2 linked regions of the Homo sapiens genome follow. The protein of the gene in region 2 purifies or fractionates together with the protein of the main gene of each other region. This does not show direct contact. Each region holds a gene or a part of one and is shown on either strand. Other genes may lie near its edges.

What was found.
Region 1: the proteins of ACSF3 (region 2) and LONP1 purify together in Homo sapiens (co-immunoprecipitation; 2 studies listed by BioGRID and IntAct, with this or other methods). This does not show direct contact.

What each region holds. Positions count from the first base shown.
Region 1 is NC_000019.10:5,713,784-5,724,418, forward strand, and holds the start of LONP1 (lon protease homolog, mitochondrial isoform 1 precursor), read right to left. Parts: upstream 6,364-10,635; 5' UTR 6,350-6,363; coding exon 5,921-6,349; intron 489-5,920; coding exon 400-488; intron 1-399. Other genes in the region: CATSPERD (cation channel sperm-associated auxiliary subunit delta), read left to right, coding at 6,955-7,025. UniProt on the Homo sapiens protein: ATP-dependent serine protease that mediates the selective degradation of misfolded, unassembled or oxidatively damaged polypeptides as well as certain short-lived regulatory proteins in the mitochondrial matrix.
Region 2 is NC_000016.10:89,135,489-89,145,851, reverse strand, and holds part of ACSF3 (malonate--CoA ligase ACSF3, mitochondrial isoform 1 precursor), read right to left. Parts: intron 9,305-10,363; exon of another isoform or gene 9,023-9,304; intron 4,786-9,022; exon of another isoform or gene 4,576-4,785; intron 639-4,575; exon of another isoform or gene 586-638; coding exon 451-585; intron 1-450. UniProt on the Homo sapiens protein: Catalyzes the initial reaction in intramitochondrial fatty acid synthesis, by activating malonate and methylmalonate, but not acetate, into their respective CoA thioester. May have some preference toward very-long-chain substrates.

The sequences.
Region 1 (10,635 bases), on a different chromosome or scaffold from region 2:
AACTCCTGACCTCAGGTGATCCACATGCCTCAGCCTCCCAAAGTGCTGGGATTACAGGTGTGCGACCCCACGCCCGGCCCATGGAACTCATTTCTACATGGAGCCACATCTCCGAGCAGCTAGCTCGACTTTCAGGTAGCCTCATGGAGCATTTCATCACTAAGAGTCCCTGAAGTTAATTTCCCCCGTATCTTAACAATGCATGAAGTTTAGTACTACAAGCTGAGTTCTCAGCCCAGGCTGAAAAGGTAGCCTGCGTGGCTTCTGGCCTTTATTCTGGAGGTCTTCCCTGGTTTCCTCGGGGTCAGGGGTCAAAGGTGCAAAGTACAGAGTAGGACTTGTGGTGAGCTGGACTCTAGGGCACCGTCAACAAGGGAATGAAGGAAAAATCACACTTACCTGTCATCTCTCTTTAGAAAGACGCCGACATAAGGCTGGGCGAGACGAACTTTCCTTCTCAGCAGCTCAACCAACTTCTTATTTTTAACCTAGCATGACAATGACCCCAAAGTGAAATGCAGAGTAGATTTTTTTTTTGAGACAGAGTCTCATTCTGTTGCCCTGGCTGGAATGTAATGGCGTGATCTCAGCTCACTGCAACCTCCACCCCCACTGAGTTCAAGGGATTCTCCTGCCTCAGCCTCCTGAGTAGCTGGGATTACAGGCATGCACCACCACACCTGGCTAATTTTTTTATTTTTAGTAGAGATGGGGTTTCACCATATTGGCCAGGTTGGTCTCGAACTCCTGACCTCAGGTGATCCACCCACCTCAGCCTCCCAAAATGCCGGGATTATAGGCGTGAGCCACCAAACGCAGCACAGGGTAGCTTTTCTTTTTTTTTTTTTTTTCTGAGACGGAGTCTCGCTCTGTCACCCAGGCTGGAGTGCAGTGGCATGATCTCAGCTCACTGCAACCTCCGCCTCCCGGGATCAAGCAATTCTCTGCCTCAGCCTCCTGAGTAGCTGGGATTACAGGCGCCCGCCACCAGGTCCGGCTGATTGTTTTGTATTTTTAGTAGAGATGGGGTTTCACCATCTTGGCCAGGATGGTCTTTAACTCCTGACCTCGTGATCCACCCACCTCAGCCTCCCAAAGTGCTGGGATTATAGGCGTAAACTACCACGCCCGGCCTCCCAGGGTAGCTTTTGTAGCTGACATTTTTTGACAGCAGAGCCGCTCTAACGCTGTGTAGATTATTCTCTGGGGACATGCTGATCCGCATCCTGGATACTAATCAACATGGTTTGGGAACGCCTAAACAAAAAAAAAAAAAAAAAAAAAAAAGTGCTGGAGGCCAGGAGGCTGTGGTGGTGAATACAGTGAGCAGAACTGACCAGCTGGATTCTTCTTAGCGGTTTCCCCACTCCCAAAGGAAATTCAAAGTAGACGAATGGTCAGAACCCAGAAATTGATTTAACATCCAGCTTCAAAGGGGATGTCCAGGGCAAACTGTCTTGGTTTGAAAATCAAAACCATTCTGCTTTTATTAATGTCAGAATAAACATAAGTAATTTAAATGTGACCCACTCCAGAGATTGATAACTTCCTTTTTTTTTTTTTTTTAATAAAGTTTCAGGCTGGGCGCGGTGGCTCACGCCTGTAATCCCAGCACTTTGGGAGGCCGAGGCGGGCAGATCACAAGGTCAGGAGATCGAGACCATCCTGGCTAACACGGTGAAACCCCGTCTCTACTAAAAATACAAAAATTAGCCGGGCGTGGTGGCGGGCACCTGTAGTCCCAGCTACTCGGGAGGCTGAGGCAGGAGAATGGCGTGAACCCGGGAGGCGGAGCATGCAGTGAGCCAAGATCACGCCACTGCACTCCAGCCTGGGCGACAGAGTGAGACTCTGTCTCATAAAAAAAAAAAAAAAAAAAAAAAAAAAAAAAAAAAAGAAAGTTTCACTCTGCCACCCAGGCTGGAGTGCACTGGTGCAATCTCGGCTCACTGCAACCTCCACCTCCCAGGTTCAAGCGATTCTTCCAACTCATCCTACCACATAGCTGGGGTTACAAGCACACGCCACTGCACTCGCTAATTTTTGTATTATTAGTAGAGACGGAGTTTCGCCATGAGCCACCATGCCTGGTTCCTCCAATTTTCATTGACAGTTACTTCCTTATCACATCATATGCTGTTCATTAATGATCAAGACCCCCAGGATCACAGCACATTCTCAACGGCAGGTTCAGGGCTAATGATGTCTTCTAAGAAGCATTTGAAGGCGCAAGGAGCTCACCTGATTTCTTTCAAGCCTTTGTTAATTCACTGGACAGACCCTGATTAAAGGTAATGGCCTGGCTAGCCTGGTAATGGTAGCTCATGCCTGTAATCCCAGCACTTTGCGGGGCTGAGGTGGGAGGATCGCTTGAGCCCAGGAGTTTGAGACCAGCCTGGGTAACACAGTGAGACCCCATCTCTATTTTCTTTTTGAAGTTTTTAATTCTTTATTATATAATAAAGTTAAAATATACATATATATATATATATATATATATATATATATATATATATAGTAATGGCCCTCAAACTTTTGCAGGCACCAGGATGACCTGAAGGACTTTAAGCAGCTCACTGCTGGGCCCCACCCTTGGAGTTTTTGATTCAGTTCTAGGGTGGGTCCAAAAATCTGCATTTCAAACAAAAGAGCATCACATGATGCCGATGCTGCTGGTCCACAACCATCCTTTGAGAGCCAGTGTTTTGACTCACTCCCTAACACAGGCTCTTAACTTGTGGTCCAGAAATTCCTGACACTATAGATACATAATTTTTTTTTTTTCTGTTCCCAGAAAAAAAAAAGTCAGTAACATCTGACAGGAGGGTGTGTGACCCACTGTTATAAGTAAAATGTTTGTTTAGAGACAGAACGCTTGTACCTCTGTACTGTAAGGAAAAATTAGCATTTGGACAAAAAGTTTTCTTAGCAAGACAATTTTACTTTCTGAAGAAAGGGTGCTCCTCGCAGATGGAACAATGGCGAGAGCAGAGCACACCTGAACAAAGGAGGGAAGCAATTTTTTTTTAAGACAGAGTCTTGCTCTGTCGCCCAGGCTAGAGCGCAGTGGAGCGATCTCAGCTCACTGCAAGCTCCGCCTCCTGGGTTCACACCATTCTCCTGCCTCAGCCTCCCGAGTAGCTGGGACTACGGGCGCCCACCACCACTCCAGGCTAATTTTTTTGTATTTTTAGTAGAGACGGGGTTTCACCTTGTTAGCCAGTATGGTCTCGATCTCCTGACCTCGTGATCCGCCCACCTCAGCCTCCCAAAGTGCTGGGATTGCAGGCGTGAGCCACCGCGCCCAGCCCACGAAGTTAGTTTTTAAAAGAAACTAATACTTCTAACACTTATGATTTATTCTTTAATACCCACCAAAAATTAAGAGCCATTGTTCCTTACTCAAAAGTTGCTAATAGGAGAGAAGCTTCTAGAGCAAGTTGGCCAGACAAGTCAAGTACAAACTGAAGAGTAAATCAAGCTTTGCTAACAATTTCAGAAACATTTATTGGGTCCCAAAGAAGTTGCCTCCCAATTTCCCCTCTGCCAACAGCTGATAGCTGCATCCTTGGCATCTGCCTCCTGGCCTTGGCAGGATCCATTTTTATGATTTACAATGCATCATCAACCAGAAATACAATGAGAACCACCTGCCAGTCTCCCAAATACTATCTGCAGCCACTCATTTAACTCTCCTGGCTAGCTCCACGTGGGCCGTCTGAACTCTCTTAGAAGAATCATCTCTCTGCTCAGGCACCGGGAGCAAGGGGCATCTGTCGCTCTGCAGAACGGAGGGGACCAGGCCTGATGAACACCATCCTGGGCCCAGAAACCTGGGAGGGTAAAGAGAACTGCCAGGGGTGAAGTCAAGGATGGGAAAAAGGCCTCCGGGGCAGAGTCCTGAAATGTCAGAAGTACACCAAAGAGGAAACAGCATCACGTTATTGCTGAGGCAGGGCCTCATTCTGTTGCCCAGGCTGCAGTGCAGTGGTGACACCATGGCTCACTGCAGCCTTGATCTCCCAGTTTCAAGTGATCCTCCTGCCTCAGCCTTCCAAGTAGCTGGGAAGACAGGTGCATGCCACTGTGCCCGGCTTTTCTTTCTTTCTTTTTTTTTTTTTTTTTGTAGAGACAGGGTCTATGTTGACCATACTGGTTTCAAATTATGCTCCTGCCTCAGCCTCCCAAAGTGCTGGGATTAAACATGTGAGACACCGTGCCCAGCCCACATGGCCTCATTTAAATCCCACAACAACTCTAATAAGACACTAATATGTCCAGGTCACAGATGAGAAGAGGGAAGCCAAAGGAATAACTTGCTGAAGGTTATGGAGCTAGGATAGGACCCCACAAGGTCTTGCTCTGGGGGCCTGCATCAGTAACCAGTACTCAACATCAAGGAAAGGCCTTGGGGCCGGGCGCAGTGACTCGCACCTGCAATCCCAGCACTTTGGGAGGCTGAGGCGGGTGAATCACTTGAGGTCAGGAGTTCGAGACGAGCGTGGGCAACATGGTGAAACCCTGTCTCTTCTAAAAATAGAAAAATTAGCCAGCCACGGTGGCGGGCGCCTGTAATCCCAGCTACTCAGGGGGCTGAGGCAGGAGAATCACTTGAACCCGGGAGGCAGAGGTTGCAGTGAGCTGAAATCGCGCCACTGCACTTTAGCCTAGATGACAGAGTGCAACTTGGTCTCAAAAAAAAAAAAAAAAAAATCTTGGAGCAGCGTTGGAGAAGCTCCCTCTGTCCCCTCTCTACTGGCTGCTGCCCCTCTGAAATGGCCTTTCCCTTCCCAACAGATCCTTGAGATTTGTTTAGAAGAGTCTGGAGAGTGAGCGCAGAGGCTGACTCACTGCGTGACCTTGCTCTGCCAGTTAGGAGATAACCTTCCCATAGATGCCACTTTCCACATCAGTAGTTTTTTTTTTTAAGGGAAGGGGAGCTGGGGGAGAAGGCTTTTGGGGCCTTCCTACTGTAAAAGCTCAAGTTCCTTACACTCACTGCTTTCTCTCTATTACATCATCCTGCTCCCTCCCCACCCCCAAGGCTCTTAGTCTGAAATGATCTAATTTCTACCACCGGAATGACTTGTTCTCTACAGTATTCTCAGAACTTGCTACGTGGTAGGAGGTCAAGAACACACTGAATAACCCACCTCTTCCCACCCTCCTAAGCCTCCTGTCCCATCCATGCTCTACTATTTCTCGTAATTATTGCCTTCTAATACAATATCGTTACTAAACATCTTTATTGCCTGTCTCATCCTGCCAAAATGTAAGCTCCAAGGCAGATTTATTTTTTAAGAGACAGGGTCTCGCCATGTTGACCAGGCTGGACTCCAGGTTTCCAACAATCCTTCCACCTCAGCCGCCAGAGTAGCTGGGAGTACAGCGCGCGCCACCATGCCCAGCTTCAAAGGCAGAAATTTTTGTCTGTTTTGTTCACTGCCATATCCCCAGAACCTAGAACACTCTCTGGCAAATAATAAGCAATCAAGAAGTATTTGTCTAAGAAAGGAATGAATTCTGATCCCAGTGAGGCTCGTAACCAGACGGCAGAGCGCCTGGGGCGAGGAGGTATTACAAAACTCGTGCCAAGTAAGGAGAAAACTAACAGCGCCGTAACACTACTCAGGTCCCTCCCGGCCCCGGATTTCTATGACCGGCGTTCTAAAGTGGATAATCCTAGGCTCATCGGGTTCAACTCCTCTCATCTAACGGATCCTAAGAAATCCGAAAGGGAGAGGACTTTGGCTCAAGGTTCCCAAGCTAGTGGTGAGCAGACAAGGATTCGAACTGCACCCTTCGAGAAACTTCATGTCTGAAAAAGTTGCGAAACACAAGGGCGCTCAAGTGATCCCACGGTTCAGCCCGCTGCTTGCACAGGTGGGAAACCTGAGGCCGAGGCGGGGACTCCCATTACCTCGATAATCTTGATAAAGCGCGGGAACACCGGGTTGCGGGTGATGGCGATGAGCGGCAGGTGCGGAAACACATCGGGGATCGTCATGGGCGTGAGCGCCGTTATGACCGGGCCTTCCCCGGCGCCCGCGCTGCCCCCCGCGCCGCCGGCTCCTTCCTCCGCGCCGCCCTCGGAGGCGTCCTCGCCCCCCGAGAATGCGCCTCCGCCGCGGCTGCTCGCTTCCCAAAACCCCCGCCATTGGCCCCCAATTGCCGGGCCTCGGCCCCACAGTGCCCAAGGAGGAGAGGCGTCGCAGGTCCGCTGGCCTCGGAGCAACCACGCTCCTGCTGCAGTGGGAACCCGCCCCCCGGCGGCGGCCAGCATCGGCCGCCGCAGCACCCAGCACCGCGCCGCTCCCCACAGTCGCACGTAGCCAGTGCTCGCCGCCATAGCCCGGCCATACTGGCGGCTCACACAACTCGCGTCATTTCCGCTCGCCGCGAAACGCACGTGACGCCCGGCGCGTGCCTCGGTACCCGATGGGCGCGTGGCTCGAAACAGCCGCTTCAGGGAGCTGGGCCTACGCGGAGAAGAGGGGGCGGAGTTCGAGCATCGGATCGTCTCCGCCTCTTCCGGTCTCCCACTTTATGCGCTGAAGGCCTTTTCCGGTCACGTGGAAGGCTGTGAGCAGGCGCCAGCGCCCGTACAAAACACTGGTAGTGTTGCAAACGCAACGTTTAGGAACTCATGAGCAGCCTGTGCACATGCTTAGGCGCGCGGACAACATGCGCATGCTCAGACTCTAGACTGGCCACGGGTGGCCGGGTGCGCATACTCAGGCTCTGAGCGCACTTTGGGGTGCGCGGATTCGGGCTTCCCGGGATTCGTCTGCGCATGCTCAAGATTCAGGCGGAGCGCCGGGCTGCAGTGCGCGGAGGCCCGCTCCCGGGACTCATTGATGCGCATGCGCAGGGCTTCAGCCTGCACGTACTCGGATTGTGCAGCGACTCCCCGTGGCGGTTGAGGGGCAGTGGTGGCGGCGGAAGCCCAAGTCGATGCTGATGTTGATGCTGGTGGCGGCTGTGACCATGTGGCTCCGACCGCTGGTCACAGCTCAGCTCTGTCGGTGGGGCTGCCAGGACTCCTGGGGCTGGGGTGCTGCCGGGGGTCGGGAGGGTGCTGGTTCATCTTGGAGCCGAGGCCTGCTCCCCAACCTCACTGAGGCTCCCCTTTTACTCTTTTTAGGAATCGAACTTGACGCCTCGCTCACCCTACTCCACCCCATCCTCCCAGCCCGATATTAAGCTCTCCTACCTCTTTTTTTTTTTTTTTTTGAGACGGAGTCTCGCTCTGTCGCCCAGGCTGCAGTGCAGTGGCGCGATCTCGGCTCACTGCAAGCTCCGCCTCCCGGATTCACGCCATTCTCCTGCCTCAGCCTCCTGAGTAGCTGGGACTACAGGCGCCTGCCACCACGCCCGGCTAATTTTTTTTTGTATTTTTAGTAAAGACGGGGGTTTCACCGTATTAGCCAGGATGGTCCCGATCTCCTGACCTCGTGACCCGCCTGCCTCGGCCTCCCAAAGTGCTGGGATTACAGGCGTGAGCCACCACGCCGGGCCTAGCCCTCCCACTTCTTTTTCTTTTTGGAGCCGGAGTTTTTGCTCTGTTTCCCAGGGTGGAGTGCAGTGGCGCGATCTCTGCTCACTGCAACCCCCGCCTCCCAAAGTGCTGGGATTGCAGGCGTGAGCCACCGCGCCCAGCCTTACCCAGCACATTTTGAAATTTCAGTAAATGTTAGGTTAGTGCATACTCCAACCTGCCATGGGGACCAGTTGCTGAAACTCCGTTCCTGCCCTCAGGGAACTCCCATCTGGACTAAACTGTCACATTCAGTAGGGACCTGTGAGCTGTATTCTTAGGGTGTATGGCCTCATTTGATGTTTACAGGAAGATTCATAATGATTCCTTAACCTTATTTTATTTTATTTATTATTATTTTTTGTACAGATGGGGTCTCACTGGCTGGGTGCAGTGGCTCACGCCTGTAATCCCAACACTTTGAGAGGTAGAGGTGGGCAGATCACTCACTTGAGGTCAAGAGTTCCAGACCAGCCTGGCCAACATGATGAAACCTCGTCTCTACTAAAAATACAAAAATTAGCCAGGCTTGGTGGCAGGTGCCTGTAATCCCAGCTACTTGGGAGGCTGAGGCAGAAAAATCGCTTGAATTCAGGAGGTGGAGGTTGCAGTGAGCTGAGATCGCACTCCAGCCTGGGTGACAAAGGGAGACTCTGTCTCAAAGGAAAAAAAAAAAAAAAGAGATGGGGTCTCACTGTTTTGCCCAGGCTGGTCTTGAACTCCTAGGCTCCAGTGATCCTCCTGCCTCAGCCTCCCAAAGTGTTGGGATTACAGGCATGAGCCACCCATGCCCAGCCATACCCTTATTTTATTTTTTTGAGATGGAGTCTTGTTCTCGTCGCCCAGGCTGGAGTACAATGTCACGGTCTCGGCTCACTGCAACCTCCGCCTCCCAAGTTCAAGCAATTCTCCTGCCTCAGCCTCCAGAGTAGTTGGGATTATGGGCGCCTGCCACCACGTGCAGCTAATTTTTTGTGTTTTTAGTAGAGACAGGGTTCCACCATGTTGCCCAGGTTGGTCTCGAACTCCTGACCTCGTGATTCACTTGCCTCGGCCTCCCAACGTGCTGGGCTTACAGGCGTGTGCCACCGCGCCCGGCCAACACCCTTATTTTATAGATACGAAAGCATACTTAGGAAAGTTAAAGACACACTTGCCTAACAACACATACCTAGTAAGTGGGAGAAACATTTTCCAGTGAAATTTACTAATAGGATTTGTCTCGAGTTCTGAAAATGTGGGTTATATCCAGTTCTCTCATTTCCCCACACAGGCTCTCAAAGAATGGTCCCTGGACCAGCAGCATCAAGATCACCTGGAATTTATTATAATTGGTTAGAAATGCAGTTCCCTGGACCTACTGAGTCGGGGACTTGGCAGTGGGACCCAGCAAACGGTGGTTTATCAAGACCCCCCCCCCCGCAACCCCGGTGATTCTGATGCATATTCAAGATTGAGCACCTCTGCTGTAAACTATACCATCCTTCCAGTCACCACACACTCCCTTAAGGAGCCCCGAATACCTTGTTGCAGGACTTCATAATTTTCCTCAGCTGGGGTCTGTGAAGGAGCCTTTAGAAATTCTTGGCCGGGCGCGGGGGCTCACGCCTGTAATCCCAGCACTTTGGGAGGTGGAGGCGGGCGGATCACGAGGTCAGGAGATCGAGACCATCCTGGCTAACACGGTGAAACCTCGTCTCTACCAAAAATACAAAAAATTAGTCGGTGTGGTGGCGGGCGCTTGTAGTCCCAGCTACTCGGGAGGCTGAGGCAGGAGAATGGCGTGAACCCGGGAGGTGGAGCTTGCAGTGAGCTGAGATCGCGCCACTGCACTCCAGCCTGGGCGACGGAGCGAGATTCTGTCTCAAAAAAAAAAAAAAGAAAAAGAAAAAGAAAAAAGAAATTTTCAGAAATCATTTCTACATTTTGTGTGTACTTATGTCTGTTTCTGGGAGAGGAGTTTCATACAAATTTTATTTTTTGACGGAGGCTTGCTCTGTCGCCCAGGCTGGAGTGCAGTGTGGCAAGAGCTCAACTCACTGCAACCTCTGCCTCCAAGGTTCAAGCGATTCTAGTGCCTCAGCCCTCAGCCTCCTGAGTATCTGGGATAACAGGCGCCCGCCACCCTGCCCAGCTAATTTTTTTTTTTTTTTTTTTTTTTTGAGACGGAGTCTCGCTCTGTTGCCCAGGCTGGAGTGCAATGGCGCCATCTCGGCTCACTGCAAGCTCTGCCTTCTGGGTTCACACCATTCTCCTGCCTCAGCCTCCCGAGTAGCTGGGACTACAGGTGCCGCAACCACGCCCGGCTAATTTTTTTGTGTTTTTAGTAGAGACGGGGTTTCACCGTGTTAGCCAGGATGGTCTCGATCTCCTGACTTCGTGATCCACCCGCCTCGGCCTCCTAAAGTGCTGGGATTAACAGGCGTGAGCCACCACACCTAGCCTGTTTTGTTTTGTTTTTGTTTTTTTTTTTGAGATGGAGTTTCACTCTTGTTGCCCGGGCTGGAGTGCAATGGTGCAATCTCAGCTCACCATAACCTCCGCCTCCCGGGTTCAAGCGATTCTCCTGCCTCAGCCTCCTGAGTAGCTGGGATTACAGGCATGCGCCACCACACGCTAATTTTGTATATTACAGGCTAATTTTGTATATTTAGTAGAGACAGGGTTTCTCCGTGTTGCTCAGGCTGGTCTCGAAGTCCCAACCTCAGGTGATCCACCCGCTTTGGCCTCCCAAAGTGCTGGGATTACAGGTGTGAGCCACCGTGCCTAACTTTTTTGTATTTTTAGTAGAGACGAGATTTCACGATGTTGGCCAGGCTGATCTCGAACTCCTGACCTCAGCTGATCCACCCACCTTGACCTCCCAAAGCGCTGGGATTACAGGTGTGAGCCACCGCACCTGGCTCTAATTTTCGTATTTTCAGTAGAGATGGGGTTTCACCAAGTTGGCCAGGTTGGTCTTGAACTGCTGACCTCAAGTGATCCACCTGCCTCGGCCTCCCAAAGTGCTGGGATTAAAGACATAAGCCACCACGCCCAGCCTCATCCAATTTTCTAGGGCCTCCTATAACCCGAAAAGCATCAGGAACAGATACTTG
Region 2 (10,363 bases):
CAGTCTGGCCGCAGCCCTGGAGCCCGTCCTTGGACAGGCCCCACTCCAATCACTCGTCCTGGTGCTGGCTGGGCCTGTGGGGAGGGGAGTGAGGACGGGCTCCCCACGGTGGATCTGGGGACTGGGCACTCACAGGGGCTCTGCCTTCCCGCCCCTTGGCTCTCTGCACTCTCCCTGCCACCTTCCTGCAGGGGAATCATGCAGATGGGAGCTGCGCCCGGCCAGGCCTGGGAGCTCTGGTGGGCACGGGGTCAGTGGCTCCAACACCGAGCAGGCTGCACCCCCACTAGCCCCATGTTCCCTGGCCAGGGCAGGGACCAGAGGTGAGCATCACAGGGACCCCTGCAGGCAGCTGGGACGGCGTCGACTCATCTGCAGTCGTCTAAAACTCAAACATGGAAGGCAGCACCCGTCTAGCCTGGCCTCCCTGGCCCAAGTCCGGCCACGCACCTGTGATGCTGGGGTGGGCCAGCAGGTGCCACTCCACCTCCAGGGCGCTGACCTTGTAGCCTCCAGTCTTGATGATGTCCACTGAGGTCCGGCCTCGGATCCAGTACTGGCCATCCTTAAACACCACGGTGTCCCCTGAGGAAAAGGGGCTCTGGTTAACTGGCCATCCTTAAACACCACGGTGTCCCCTGAGGAAAAGGGGCTCTGGTTAACTGGCCGTCCTTAAACACCACGGTGTCCTCTGAGGAAAGGGGGCTCTGGTTACTACCCTGTGGCAACCCCAACGGAGAAACAGCTATGCCAGGTAAGCCCACATTCCTGGTGGTCACGACGTGCGTCCCAAGGTGGGACTGTGCCCATGATGTGGGGTCTGCCCTTCCTGTGGGGTCCCTTCCCCATGCTCAGCTGTATGCACTTCCTCCAGGGGCAGGTCAGCAGTGGGTCCAGAGCCTGCCAGGAGCAGGAGGTGCCAGAAGCCCTGCTGGGCCTGTGGTCTGCAGACACCCTGCATTAGGAAGCCGGCTCAGGCCCTGTTTCTGTGACAGTGATTGATAACCACTGGCCATGGGTGGGATGCGTGGCCTTTTCTGAGCAACAAGCACAGGGTCTGATGCTTTACCCTCCCTCAGGATGGGTGCCAGGGTGTGCTGGGCCTCCTGGCTGTGCTGCTACTGCTGCAAGGGCCCCCAGACGGAGCCCCTGGGACTGCAGCATAGAGGGGCCGCCCCTCATGCAGGCAGGCTGCTCTGGGAGAGGGGCCGAGGCCCACCAGGCCCTGTCCTGCCATTTCTCTCAGGCCCACAAAAGAATCCAGGCCAAATATTCAGTAAAAGAAGTGAACCAGACACATTACAACATCCCACCACGGTGGGCTCCAGCAGTGAATGCCCAGCCCCTCTGGATGGGAGAGGCACCAAGGCCCACGCAGAGGCCACAGGGAGGGGCTGGTGGCTGAGGAGGACAGGGCCTTTCCTGGGTGCCTGGAGCCTCCTGCTGGTGCCCATCTTGTGCCCTCCACACCTGACCATGCTGGTCCTAGAACAATGGCCGGGGCTGCCCCACGTTTTCCTTCCTAAGGCAAAGCCACGACGTGGCCCTTGCTCCTCCCCGTGCAGTTCCTGGAGCTCCTGTGGGAACCAAGCTTCCTTCGTTTTCTTCCTTTCTCGAGTAGCTCAACACAGACACCACCAGCCACTGAGGGTGGGGAGTCGGGAAGAGCGGGCTGCAGCCTCAGAGCCTGTACTCCCAGCCCGAAGCTGTCTCATGACGCATGGGCCCATAGTGTGCGTGCCTGCGAGCGTGTGTGCAGCTGGGAGGGCGCGGTATGCGTGACTGTGAGCATGTGCACGCACACATGTGTGCCGTGGCTGTGGGAGCATGCAGGGCATGTAAGGGCAGTGCTGAGGCCTCAACTGTCTGCTTCCACATACCCTGCACTCCACATGGGTTATTAGCTGGAATAAATCATAAATACTTCATTATACATCATGCTGTTGGACGCAGAAAGGCCCCATCCATCCACCTCACCACTCCTTGAGACCCATGGCGTGCTCCTCAGTCTATTAAACAAGACGGATGGGTGTGCCCAGGTGGGCTCCAGGCTTATTTATGGAGCTCTGGAACTCTGGAACTCTGTGCTGATGGGTAGCAGAAAAACCAGAGGCTCCCCGACAGGAGAGTGGTCTCACTGCGCCCCTGGGGTAGTCTGGGCGGCTGGAAGGGGGTGTGCAGGTTGGGCTGTGGGCGGGGTTGGACACAGCCTGTCCCAAGTCCCGTGGGACCCGCCATGGCTCCTGCTCCTGCTGTGCAGCCTGGCTTGTGTGTCCCCTCTGGACCAGACAGCCACCAATCTTCCAATAGCATCTCTTAATCGCACCGAGCCACCCCGTCCAGGCTGCTCCTGCCCCACGGATGCCACAGCTGCTGACACCAGGGAGGCTGCCAGGTGCTCAGGGCCCTCCATACAGCTTCTGGCCTGGCTCCACCCTGGCCTGCACCACCCAGAGACCCAGCGCAGCATGGAGCCACTGCCCTGCTCTGGTCCTGCCGGAGAGGCCATCACTGCCTGCCCCCAAGGCTGACAAGTCCCCGGCACCCTCTTGAGCTGCCTGTGTCCTGGCTCCAAGGATGCACCACAGTTACTCACGGGGCTGAGGCTGCACCACAGCTACGCACGGGGCTGAGACTGCACCAAAGCTACGCACGGCACTGAGGATGTACCACCGTTACACACCAGGCTGATGCTGGGAGAAACTGGGGGGACGGCACAAGGAACCCCTGTGTGTTATTTCTAATTTCCTGCGAATCTTTTTTATAAGTTTTAAAATGTTGCTTTTTGGTTTATGGAGCAATTTTCTTCCCCATCTCCAGCAGCACCAGCCCCGAGTGGGCTCATGACATGGTGAGTCACGCCAACGTCGGCAATGGATTATGATCGCGCAATAACTTGTTAAAGAACAAACTCACATGAGCTTAATTTATGAATACAAGGAATGAGTGCCCTTCACAGGAGAGGCCCATCAATGGCTGATTAGATGCAAGACCCAACCTCTCCGCCCACTGCGAGACCCCGTCTCCTTAGGTGTGGGTGTGTCTGCAGGTGTGGGTGTGTCTGCAGGTGTGGGTGTCTCTGTAGGTGTGGGTGTGTCTCTGCAGGTGTGGGTGTGTCTATAGGTGTGGCTGTGTCTCTGCAGGTGTGCCTGTATCTCTGCAGGTGAGGGTGTCTCTGCAGGTGTGGCTCTGTCTGCAGGTGTGGGTGTGCCTGCAGGTGTAGGTGTCTGCAGGTGTGGGTGTGTCTGCAGGTGTGGCTGTGTCTCTGCAGGTGTGGGTGTGTCTGCAGGTGTGGGTGTGTCTGCAGGTGTGGGTGTGTCTGCAGGTGTGGGTATGTCTCTGCAGGCGTGGCTGTGTCTCTGCAGATGTGTTATATCTCAGCAGGTGTGGGTGTGTATCCCCAGAGGTCGAAGCCCTGGTGCTGAGATCTCCCAGGAGTGGTGGCACTGAGTATCTGCCCATCCTCTCTGGCTCTGGGCTGTTTCTGGCATGGTCAGGCCCTGAGACCCTGCTGTAGGCCTTGTTTGGGGGTCTCTCCCTGCCTGGGCCTGGCTGCCTCTGCCCCGAGATGCTTCTTCCAGAGCCAGTGCTCAGGAAGGACTGGTGGGGGCAGCTTGGGGAGTTGTCCATTCCCTGGGCCCCAGGCCCCAAATCCCTGCTTCTCAGTGATAGCCCTGCCTGGCCTCCAACCCCAGGGTCGTCACAGGCCCCAGCTGCCTGCTGTGCTGCACGCACGGTTTCCACTGAGCCATGCGGAGGGAAGAACCGTAGGGGTCGGCGCGCAACATGGTGCCATTCCCAGGGCCCCAGGCTTCTGTGCCGGAGAAAGTGGCAGCTATACCTGTCGGAAAAAGGCTGTGTCTGAGACTCCCCCAGCAGCACTGGGCGAAGCCAATCAGTGCAGGACTGAGACCTGTCTCTGTGATGGACGCCTGTCTCGGGGATGATTCTGAGAGGTGCTTCTGTGCCCAGAACTTGTGCGTGGCATGAGGGGACCCTCAGTGCTCAGAGCACGTGTGTGGCGTGCAGGGCCCTCAGTGCATGGTGGCAGTCGTGTGTCCTTCCCACCCTGGGCATCAGAAGGTGGTGCCGCTCTCAGCCCAGCCAGCACCACAGGGCCGGCTCCCCACTCCAGTGTCAGAATCCCCATCCTCACTGCTGCCTGGAGCTCCTTCCAGGGGTAGGGAGAGACTTCCCACTGCCCACAGAGGAAAGCCCAAGTCCCACATGCGTCTCCCGGGCCTGGATGCCTTTGCCCGGACGCCTTGGCCTGGACGTTCCTGGCATCTTCCTGGCAAAGGCCCCCTCTAGGCCGGGGCCCTCCAGGGTCCATCCTGCTGCACAAACATGGCCCCTCTGCCCCAGTACCCCTGCTCCACCTCCTCTGGCCAGTGTCTTGTCTGCAAGGCCTGGGCACCCCCACCCAAAGGGGCGGCCCCGCTGCTTCCCTCCCAGCCCTGAGCTTGCCCCTTGGAACATGTCAGGCTTTGTTCTAGCTTCTCAGCACAGAGCAGTCTCAGCTCCGAGGGTCGACATCTCCCTGCCCATTCCCAGACTACTCAGCGCCCGCCTCACCCGCCTTGCTGTGCCTTTGCCAAGGGGAAAAGTGGCTGGTTTTGTTCTTCCAGGCTGGGACGCTGCTATCAAGGGCTCAGAGGCATCGGAGCCAGGGTTTAAACAAAGTCTCAGCCAAGCAAGAGCGGGTCGGACACCCCGCGGGAGGAGGTCCTGCGGCAGCGAGGGCGACTCAGAAGGTTCAGAGGGCTCCAGGGCAACTTGCGATCACTGTGAAATGCAAGTCAAACAAGTTAAATAACCTTTACTTTCCATAACAACCTATTTATCAAAATGCATCGATTCTGGAATCGGAGTCGGCTGCCAATGGGCTGTGTATGTCCTCGGCCTGATGTGTTCATTAAAGGAGTTTTCTTCTGACAGATACAATGTAGCAATCAATAAACTCCTATTACCTGGATTTATGAGCTGCTTTTGAATTTGGTGCTATTTCATGTCTCTGCCTTCCACTGTAACTGAAAATAAATCTTCCAATACTCAGATTTGAATTCTCTAGAGTGTAGGTGGAGTGAGGTGCTGTGGTCCCCAGTCCCCCAGCGAGAACTTGTCTGTGGGCCTCGGAGGAAGCACTCCTGGCCGGGGGGATGTCCTGACCCGCACGCAAGATAAGAACAGCGCCTGTTCTGCTGTGCAGATGTGGTTCCCGAGCCTGGATCTGGAGTGACACCAGCACCCAAAGCGCGATCCCAGGAAACAAGGTGAAGAGAGGCCCAGACCCAGCCTGTCGGACTTTTGCTCCCAAATGGCACTGATGCCAGCAACAGAATGTGAAGCTTGGCCCCAGTCCTTGAGGAAAGTGCCGAGGGAAGCCCAAGGCCCTGCCCAAGGACCCCGCCCAAGCCGATGCCCTGAGATCTCTGCCCCCAAGTTCTCAGCCTCCAAGCCTGGAACAGGTGCCCGTGTGTGTGTACAGAGAGGCCAAGCCTGGAACAGGTGCCTGTGTGTGTACAGAGGCAGCTGGAAACCAAGTTACGTGAAAGCCTCCACCAGTTACCCCGGGGCACCTGGCCAGGGGAGGTGGCTGCAGGGAGGACAGACTGAGGCTCAGAGGGGCAGTGGGGAAGGCGGCCTCCATTGCGGCCAGGCACAGGCCACCGCCCAGCAGGAGGGAAGGTGCTGGAAGCTCAGGTGCCCGTGGACACTGGAGGCTTCTGCACCTGGACCCCAGTGCCATCCAGGTCTCCTCTGTGGGCCAAGGGTGAAAGAGGCTTCTTGAAGGCAGAGGGAGTCCCAGTGACGGCCTGAGACCCAACTCCCTGACCTGGGCTCAGCGCTCACCCGGCAGCTCCGTGACCTTGGCTCCGTCCTCAGCTGGTGGCTCCTCAACCTGGGCTCAGGGGTCTGGGGACAGAGGACACCCTGTACGTTAAAAAGAGGGGGTCATGGTTGGGTGCGGTGGCTCATGCCTGTAATTCCAGCACTTTGGGACGCTGAGGTGGGGAGATCACGAGGTCAGGAGATCGAGACCATCCTGGCCAACATGGTGAAACCCCGTCTCTACTAAAAATACAAAAATCAGCCAGGTGTGGTGGTGGGCGCCTGTAATCCCAGCTACTCTCGGGAGGCTGAAGCAGGAGAATTGCTTGAACCCGGAAGGCGGAGGTTGCACTGAGCCGAGATGGCGCCACTGCACTCCAGTCTGGCGACAGAGCAAGACTCTGTCTCGAAAAAAAAAAAAAAAAAAACAGAAAAAAAAAGGAGGGGGTCACCAAGTGCCAGGATTCAGCACGGCTGTGGCAGCAGCAAATCTGAAGGCCAGAAAATGATAGAGAAGCGACTTCTAACCCTGAACCCTATACGCAGCCAAACCGACAAGCAAGGCTGAGGGCAGAACGAAGACCCGGAGAGACACGCAAGTCTCCAAGTACGGACCCTACACACCCGCCTCAGGAAGCCCCAGGGGAAAGCAGTCCCCACAGCTGGGGGCGGAAGAGGGAAGACGAGGATGCTGTGGGCTGGGAGCCGACGTCCTGACCCGGTAGGAGGGAAGGGGTGGTGGTGATGGGGAAGGAGGCGCCATGGGGAGACCAGCCCAGCCCACGAGGAATTGGCACCAGGAGACCAAGAAAACCAAGACTTTCCCGACTCTGGAAAACAAAGAAAGAGGAAAAACCTCAGTGTCTCCTGGGCTCAGTTCTCAGCGGCGACTCCATAGTCTCAATAGTGCAGATGCCATACGGGACTGAGCCGGGCCGTGCCTGAGGAGGGGCCTCCTCTGCGGGACTCAAGCCATGGCAGCAAAAAGGAGCCTGGAGGTGGCGGTGCTGGCGGCCCTCGGGATGCGGGGACCGCACAGAAGCAGCAGCCGGCGAGTCTGGGGAAGGGGCACGGCTGTGATTCTTCTTCTCAAACTGCTACAACTACTTGGGTGTTTAAGCCACAGGTGTGTAACTTTGGCTTAAAAATAAAAATGTAAAAACACTCAGCCTCTGCCCAGAGTCCTCATGTGTTTTCTAGGGAACCCAGGCTAAGACACATCTGAAGACCATGGCCGCCTCGTGGGCCTGGTGGCCCTGCAGGCTGCACAGAAGGGCATCTTGCAGGAGGGCTGGGGCACCCTCCTCAGCATGGCCCATCAGTCAGCTTGGCACCTGCAGGCAGCAAAACATGGTCCCTCTCAGGAGCTGTCAGCGTGGACATATGGCTCTGAGAAGGGAAGAGAGGGGCTTCACAGCACAGCCTGGCTGAGCGTGGCAGGCCCAGCGAGGTCCCTCTGCCGGATGAAAGGGGCTGGGGCAAGCATGGCCATTTCGGCACCTGTCATCCCCGCGATCGGCTCTGACCTTGGTCGGCACCCTTGGCGCAGAGGCTGGCACCAGCCAGACGAGCCTTGGTTGGGTCTTGGGGCCCCACCAGGAGGCCTGTGTTCCTTCCCTTGCCCCACAGAGATGCCCAGTGTCCTGTGAAGGCAGCATGGCCAGGAGGGTTTTGGTCAATGAGACAAAGGCCCCAGGGCTTCTGAAAAGGTCCCTCCCCTGGACGAGGGGACAGCTACAGGAACAGCCCAGGTGCCCCCACCTGACCTCAAATGTGCCATCAGGCCTGGGGCTCAGCGTCCACCTCGTTACCACAGGGAGAGGCTGTGGGAGGCTGAGAGGCTGTGGGCCGGGACCACGACACTGCCGGTCCCCACTTGGCCTCCACAGTGCCTGCCGGGGAGCTCTGGCGCCACAGGGAATCCCCGGCGGCTGGGGCTGCTGTCCCTCTGATTTTCGCTTCTTGAGGCCAGTGAGTCCCAACTAAGTCACAAGGTCCCTTTAACCCTTTGCCACTGGCCCAGATGTAAGAACCCAACGGCTGAGACCCAGAGGGTTCTGGGGTGCCCAGGGACACATGGAGCCCCAGCTGGGCCCTGGAAGCAGCGGACTCTTGCTCCTACCCCAACACGCCTCAGACAGGGTGACAAGTAAGCTAGTGCCCGGCAGTGGTGCCCATGAGCACGTGGAGGGCCTGGGAGGCTGGGCTGATGTTCAACCTTGGGGGATGGGGCCACCTGGGCCCAGCTCCCTTCTCGCTCCGAGCAGAATTTCTCAGTCTGGGGGTTCTCCAGCCCCCCACTCCCCTCTCCCCATCCTTCCCTGTGAGCTCCTGGTGGTCCTCCTGGGACCTGGGGCTCTTCCCCTCAGTCCTTCCCCGTGAGCTCCTGGTGGTCCTCCCGGGACCTGGGGCTCTTCCCCTCAATCCTTCCCCACGAGCTCCTGGTGGTCCTCCCGAGACCTGGGGCTCTTCCCCTCAATCTTTCCCCGTGAGCTCCTGGTGGTCCTCCCGAGACCTGGGGCTCTTCCCCTCAATCTTTCCCCGTGAGCTCCTGGTGGTCCTCCCGAGACCTGGGGCTCTTCCCCTCAATCCTTCCCCGTGAGCTCCTGGTGGTCCTCCCGGGACCTGGGGCTCTTCCCCTCAATCCTTCCCCGTGAGCTCCTGGTGGTCCTCCCGAGACCCGGGGCTCTTCCCCTCAATCCTTCCCCGTGAGCTCCTGGTGGTCCTCCCGAGACCTGGGGCTCTTCCCCTCAGTCCTTCCCCACAAGCTCCTGGTGGTCCTCCCGGGATCCCTGGCTCTTCTCTAAGGAGTTCGGTTATCAGGTTTCCTCACCCGGCTGGAGCCTAAGACGCCATTCACCCCTGCAGGGATGCCGCCCTGCCCTACCGCCCCTCTCCTGACCCCTGGATGCCCCCAGGAGGGGCTGCTGCTGCTGCTGCTCCCGCATCTGCCCGGCAGAGGTGCCCACCTCCACGTCACCTTCCACTCGCCCCAGGTGGCAAATGTGCGCGTGTGTCTCTGAGCGAGGGCACGTGGAGTCAGAGCATCTGCAGAGATCATTGTGGCCGTCAGAGGAGTTACCTGAGACAGACCTTTGACGTCTGAAGACATCGTTGTGGCCGTCAGAGGAGTTACCTGAGACAGACCTTTGACGTCTGAAGACATCGTTGTGGCCGTCAGAGGAGTTACCTGAAACAGACCTTTGCCATCTCCTTGAGCAGCAGCGGAGACCCCTGGCCTCACAAGCCCGCTGTGTGATCTTGAGGCAGAAGCGGGCTGTAGGCACAGAGGCAGGTGGGGGAGGCAGGAGCGGCTGGCATCAAAGCTGGCAACCTCTCCTCTCATCCTGACCCGGAGGAGGCCGTTGGGGAGCTGCAGGCCGGCCTCGGCCATCCTCAGCTGTGTCCAGCCATCCCTGGCTGTCCCCTGTGCCCGCCGGCTTATGCCAGAATCCGTGTGGCAGGAGGGGCTGGCCAGGGAAAGGGTTAAGTTTAATTTCTCCTGATTTCTATTTAATATCATGCTCTCCCGGCAGGAGCGGCAGCTGTGAGCTGATTGCAGGCTCTCATTATGCAGCAGCATCGCTAATGGCCTGTGACAAAGACATGCGGCTTCCAGGCCTTACCCCCGAGAGCCAATTAAACACACATACTCCCTTCCTGTTTGCAGCACATTACAATGAAATTAAACTGAATTTCAAAATCATTTTCTACTAAAGACATCTCTGTACAATAATTAATGCATGTGATTCCGCCCCGGCTGAAACATGCCTCAGCACTGGCGACTGCGAGTGTTTCCACGCTCGCAGCCCCGCATCTCACACGGCTGCCCTCCCAGCGGCTCCGGGAGCCCCGCGACTCGCAAAATCCACAGGGCTGTGGTTCCTGTGCTTTCAAAGAAGAAAACGTCTTCAGCTTTTACCTGAATTTAAAAATACAAGAACCGGCCAGACGCAGTGGCTGACGCCTGCAATCCCAGCACTGTGGGAGGCCGAGGCGGGCGGATCACCTGAGGCCAGGAGCTCGAGACCAGCCTGGCCAACATGGCAAAACCCTGTCTTTACTAAAAATACAAAAATTAGCCGGGCGTGGTGGCGGGCGCCTGTAATCCCAGCTACTTGGGAGGCTGAGGCAGGAGAATTGCTTGAACCCGAGAGGCAGAGGTTGCAGTGAGCTGAGATCGTGCCACTGCACTGCAGACTGGGCGACAGAGCGAGACTCCGTCTCAAAAATAACTAACTAAATAAATAAAACAACTGCAGCGTGAGTCGGATTGGGGTCGGGGCATTCAGAGGGCACTGGAGGGATGCTCAGAGCAAGACCTGCTCAAGTCCGGTTCCTGTAATTCTGCATTTGAAGGGAAGTCATGGACAGGCTGTTTCCCCAGATCAGCATGCGCTAATGGGGATGTATAAAAAAGATAAATTGGGAGGGAGTGTTTGATGTGCTGACCACGTCCTGTCACAGAGAGGCTTCTAGGGCCCCAGCCCTGGGTCCTCTGCTGATGTCCAGCCCACGAAGGTGCCTCCCA